2 separate regions of the Homo sapiens genome follow, and region 2 is linked to region 1. Evidence: fine-mapped expression QTL. A gene starts in region 1. The other region holds a variant in brackets. All regions are shown on one strand. Distances are from middle to middle. Region 1 holds the start of LINC02793 (long intergenic non-protein coding RNA 2793). Region 2 has its middle 23 kb from the start of LINC02793.

The links. PIP is the estimated chance that this variant, and not a neighbour inherited with it, causes the effect. A credible set is the group of variants that fine-mapping cannot tell apart.
Region 2: its variant is the best candidate, but not a certain one, in a credible set for the expression of LINC02793 in lymphoblastoid cells (GENCORD, PIP 0.50).

What each region holds. Positions count from the first base shown.
Region 1 is chr1:25,039,460-25,042,370 of GRCh38, forward strand. It overlaps LINC02793 (long intergenic non-protein coding RNA 2793), which reads left to right and starts at 1,708. Exons shown (of 3, transcript XR_947090.3): 1 at 1,708-1,919.
Region 2 is chr1:25,063,003-25,065,913 of GRCh38, forward strand. No RefSeq gene overlaps it. Among named protein-coding and RNA genes, the nearest start is that of LINC02793, 23 kb to the left of the region's middle. The variant C/T (reference allele first, on the strand shown) is at 1,334.

The DNA.
Region 1 (2,911 bases):
CCGCTGCCCAGTGGTCAGCGTGGGGCCAAGGTCAGCAGTCAGCCTGGGCCAGAGGTTTGTGGTTGGATCAGGAGTCAGTGGGTACCCCGGCAGGAGTCAGTGTATGGTTTGGCTGAGGGATCAGTCTGTGACAAGGGACAGCCGTCGGTTTATGTTCAAATCAGGACTTCATCCATCACCAGGGTCAAAGAGCAAATAGGCCCAAGTCAGGACTCAAACATGGCCAGCGTCAGAAGTGTGTGTCTGCGGAGTGAAGCCTGCCACCAGCGTTGCATCAGGCCAAAATCTGACCTCAGAGCCAGGTGTGGCCAAATCAGGAGATGCTGTAACCACTGAGCTGCCAGCCCTGTCAAGCAGGATGCTGGGCAGAGGGGACACATCAGTTCCCTCCATCTCCCATGCCAGACCTGGCAAGTCTGGGCAACCCAACCCAAAGCCTCCCCACTGTTCCAACAGCCTGGGGGACTTAGCTGATCTAACATCCACCCATTCCCATTTAACAGATGGAAAAACTGAGCCCAGAGTGGGGCCAGGACATACCCAACATCATAGCGCAGATGAAGACACAGCCAGGACCAGAACTCAAATCTCCTACACCAGTGGGCTTCCCCCCTGAGCCTGAACATGGAGTCACCACTGGCTCAGTGATTACTGAGTGGAAAGGGATTCGAGACGGCAGAGCACTGTGCAGAGATAGCTGGGCATGAGGGGAGAGAATGCAAGCCTCAGCTGGGAATCGGGACTCTTGGATTCTCATCTTCTCAGATTGACTTAATTCACCACTTCAGAGAGGTCTGTGCGTTCACTTGTTCATTGATTCATTTATTCAACAAATGTCTTCTTAGGTAACCTCTCTGGACCTCAGTCTCCTGATCTGTAAATGGGCAGAATGCCTTTCCCAGGATGGTTGTGGAAACAAATGAGAAAACAAATGGGCAACTTCTGGTGACTGCGCACAGGTGCATGCGTGGTTGCAGCAGATGGCAGTGCCGCCCGCGTGCCTTGGTTATTCCTGTGGCTCATGCCCATGGGAAAGCTTCCAACCACAGCACCTGCAACTCCCCCTGCCCCACAACAATGTTCTCTGGTCAGTGGTTGGGGGCAAGCCAGAGTCCTGGGAGTTAGCACACACCTAGGAGTGACCCTCAAGCAATGTTGGAACAGAGCCGAGGAATACACACTCAGCTCCCTCCCCGCTCAGCTGGGGTCACTCAGGTGTGTTCTACGCTGTCTTCCCAGGGTCCCCAGTGGGATGGAGCCCCGGTTGCCCACAGCTATAACTTGCTGGCTAATGCATATTCCTCCCTGGTTTCTTCCCCACCCCCTTACAGGTACTCCTTGGGATCATAAATGAACTACCTGCAACTCACATCCTAGTGTGAGTTGCAGGGTCTGCTTTCAGATCAGCCCAAACTCAGGTATGAACACATCGCATGTCATCTCATCTCACCTTCACAACACCCCTGGGAGGTGGGCCTGCTGCCCCACTCTACAGAAACAAATGCTCAGAAAGCTTAAGGTCATTGTCAAGAATATGGCAGATCTGGAATTTCTCCCCAGGACTGTCTGTCTCCAGAGCCAACACTCAACTATCACGTTATGCATCATCCCACCTCACCCCCAGGGACCTCCCTCATAATGGAAGCAGCAGCAAAGACTTCATAATGAACAGCACCAGGTAAGTGCTTGTGGAGATGAGAGAACTGCAACATTGCCTGTTGTCCTGCAGGCAGTAGTCCCGCAGCAAGCCAGCATGCTTTCCTGGGGACATGATACCTGAGCTGGGCGTTTAAGGATGCACTGGAGTTGTCCAGGTGGTGAATAAGAGAATGCACTCCAGGCAGAAGGAAGAGCAGGTGCAAAGGCTTAGAGACACGAAAGAGGGTGTTGTATTTAAGGAATGCCGGAAAGCAATGAAGGTGTGTGGGGTGTGATGCCTTCAGGAGAGGGTGGGAACCTTTGCTCTAGAAGTAGGCCTGCATTGCCCCTGGTGGGCTGGGCACCACCCTGCTCAGAAGGCTTCAATCAGGCACAGGTGTGGTCAGATGTGTGGCTCTGGTGGCAGTGTGGAGCAGATCATGCTTGATACATAGTATATGCTCAATACAGATGTAGTCTTAACTATTAATTTTTTATTTTATTATTTCAATTTTGTATCTAGTTTGTTTTTGTTTTTGTTTTAAGACTTCTGTACCCCCAATGTCATGAATAATTACTTTCTTCTAAAAATTTTAAATTTTGCTCTTTCCCATTCAGGGCTTTGGGTCATCTGAAATGTACGTTATGTTTGGTGTGAGGTAGGAATAGCATTTTATCTCTTCTGTGTGAAGAGCCAGTTAGCCTAGCACCATTTCTTTATTAAATAGGTTGCTCTGTAAATGCTGACGTCTTCCACGTTCGAAGTGCCCATTTATAAGTGGGTGCGTTCAGAGGTTCTCTCTTCCATTTTTTGAACATCCTCCTTGAATCACTACACTTTATAATAAGCCATCGTCTCTAAAAAGACAAGGCTTTCTTAATATTCTTCTTCAAATTTGAGTTGGTGTATTAGTGCTACGGGATCTTTGGGGTGTCACTTTTCTGGCCGGAAACCTCTGTGTGGCTGCTGCAGTGGGGCAGGCAGCTCCAGGTGCCAGCACCAGTGCCAGCTTTCTGTGAGTCTGTGGTTGGACCAGGTGCATTGCAAGCAGCATCCACAGCTGGCACTGGGAACATAGTGGCACCTGGAAGCTTGGAGATGCCAGGAACCACAGGGACCCAAGGAGGGAGTCATAGGTCTGGCTCAGGGAGCACCCAGGCCTGAGCTCCCTGAAGGGCTGCAGCTCCTCTCTCCTCTTTGCCTGTGGCATGGCGAGCAAGGGACATATCTCAGCCCTGTTTGTGTTACAGCTCTTTAGCCTTGCCATTCATC
Region 2 (2,911 bases), 24 kb after region 1:
CAGGGGTAGTGCCAATGCGCTCCCCTGGGGGCCCAACCCTCTTGCTACCCAGACCCCACTATCCCCTCTGTCCCCACCACAGAGGCCACTGTCTTTCCTGCCTCTTTCACCCTCAGTGCACAAGCCAGCCCCTGAGGCCCTCCTGCAGCAGCCAGGCCCCCACATCGAAACTGCCCTAAAGGACCTGAAATTGGGACCTGGGGGTCAGCCCAATGTCACAACACCTTCATCAACAACAATAAAACCTACCACCTGGCCAGGCCCGGTGGCTCATGCCTGTAATCCCAGCACTTTGGGAGGCCGAGGTGGGCGGATCACCTGAGGTCAGGAGTCAAGACCAGCCTGGCCAAAATTGTGAAACCCCGTCTCTACTAAAAGTACAAAAAATTAGCCATGCATGGTAGTGGGCACCTGTAATCCTAGCTACTCAGGAGGCTGAGGCAGGAGAATCACTTGAACCTGCGAGACGGAGGTTGCAGTGCACCGAGATGTTGCCAATGCACTCCAGCCTGGGCGACAAGAGTGAGAATCTGTCTAAAAAATAAAAATAAAAATAAAATAAAAAATAAAAAAACCTACCACCCATTGAGGAAAGGCTAGCAGGGTACCAGGCAGCTCCCAGGCATTTTACATATGCAGTAAGTTGTTTACCCTCACAGCAATTCTGAAGCTATGCTGATGGTAAGTGGACCCATTTGACAGCTGCATAAACTGAGGTTCTTAGTATGGTGTCCCCCAGAAGCAGCCCTTAGGTGAGGGCTCAGTTCCCTGTGAGTAGTGCATTTCAGAGATGATACCAGGAAATACCGGTAAGGAAGAGGAGAAATGAGACAGGGAAGGGAAGAAAGACATAAAAGGCTGAGTCATTAAACAAATGACCACTGCGGGCAACCAAAGTGGTTGGGGCTTGCTGGGAGATGGCGTGGAATATGCCCCAGGATCATCCCAACTGAGGGGACAGGAGGCTGGGATATTTGTCTGCCTTCAGGCCTTACTGCCCGAGGGCTGCTTCAGCGGATGCATATGTTCCAGGGCTCAAAGCCCTTCAGCTTCGATTTCACTCACACAGAGAGGAAATGCCCTCGGGCAAACAGTCATGGCGTGTGCAGTAAGCAGCACCAAATGGGAAAAAGTGAAGGCTGAGGGGACTTGGGCCAGGCATCTGCAGGGTCTTCTTTCCGAGGCTCAGAGAGGGGTAGTCACTGGTTTAAGGTCACACAGCTTGTTAGTGGCAGAACCTGGATCCAAACCTGATCTGCCAATCCCAAATTTTAATCCCCAGGGTAGGAATGGGACCAGGACTAGGGGTTAGGTCTGTCTAGAGTGGGCTCTG[C/T]AGCTCAGCTTCACTCTCCACCGCACCAAGAAAGCCCTTAAACCTTATCCAGAAAAATGCAAGGAGAGATACCAGCAGGTTCCCATGTTCCCTGGAAATCCTTCATTGCCCGTAGTCTGGCTGCTGGGATGTTGGGAATCTCAGAACAAGGTTATTTTGCCAACGGGAAGGCAGACCCCCTGAAACAAGGAAGAGAGACTGCAAAGCCCAGACCAGAGGGTGAATGAATGAATGAATGAATGAATGAATGAATGAATGAATATAATCAGACAACAGTGTCTCAAAGCTCAGATCCTCTTGGCAGCATCTAGGCCTTTCGCCTCCTCCCACAATTCCACCCACCAAGCCCCACAGAAAGACAGTCCCAAGGTGGCAAACTTGTAACCCACAGGTGTCAAATGAGTCATTTTGCTTTGCATGTCACCATGCTTTTGAATTTTTTTTTGTTTTAGCTTTGTCAACATTTAACAATTGTAAAACTTCACATCACATGAAAACCCCGATTTCCAACTTTGCTGGAAAAAGCAGAAGCTCTGGTGGAATAAAGCCCACCTTCCTGCTGGGTGGCAGCCCCCCCTCCCTGGGATCAGACAAGGACTCTCCCTCTTGCCTTCCTGACACTGAAGCCAACGTCAGTTGCCACATTGTCACTTGCACTATGGTTTTAATGTCACCGACATGGCCCCTGGAAGCACGGAAGTCTGAGAGGCCTGGAGCTGGAAACCTGGAGCCCTGCGTTCTGACTTGCTCTGTGACCTCAAGCAAGTCCCTTCCCCTCTCTGTGCCTCATCACTTCCTTTATGAACTGAAGGGCCAGACAAGTGATCTAAGAGCCCTTCTTGCCCACAGTGTCCCAAAATCAATAAAGAGGGCTGGGGAGTTGAGCAGACCTTCCTTGGTTGAAGGCCTCTGTCCAGGCATGGGGGGCACTGCTGCAAAGAGACTGCATCCTCCCGACTCCCCCAAACTCAAAGTGCATCCAGGTGCTCCTGAGGGTCTGCTGGGCACTTGCTGCCCCTCCACACCACTCATGAGCTCCACTGAACCTGTCCCCAGCAGCGGGTATGCCCCTCAGATAGATGACTTGCTCTTCTTATGTTCCATGGGCACATGTAATGGGTGGGCAGCAGGCGGAAGAGCAGGACACAATCTCTGTGCTCATAGGCCGTGAGCGGCAGAGAACACCAAGCAGCAGCTGCAGGCAAAAGAAAGCCACTCCCCACAGTGCAACTCTGATCTCTCCGCCACGGCATGGATACCCACCCCTGGCTGCTGCAGGCCGACCCCTGAGAAGCCACTGGAAAAGAGTGCAGGGCCTGGGCCGGGCACAGGTGCCTGTCCAGAGCACAGATTCAGAGTCTGAGCAAATTCAACCCAAATGCTTCCGGTGCCTCCTCCGTGCCTGGCAGTGGGCTCAAGTCCCACCAGTCACTTCCTAAATATGAACTAACCATATCATGATCTGTGTCGTGATTGCTGCAGCTGCGGCGGGAGCTCTCGGGAGAGACCTGGCAAGCCCTATCTGCCAGCCTCCACCGCCTCCTTCACGGAATTGCCTCCTTCTTGCTGGAGCTGTTG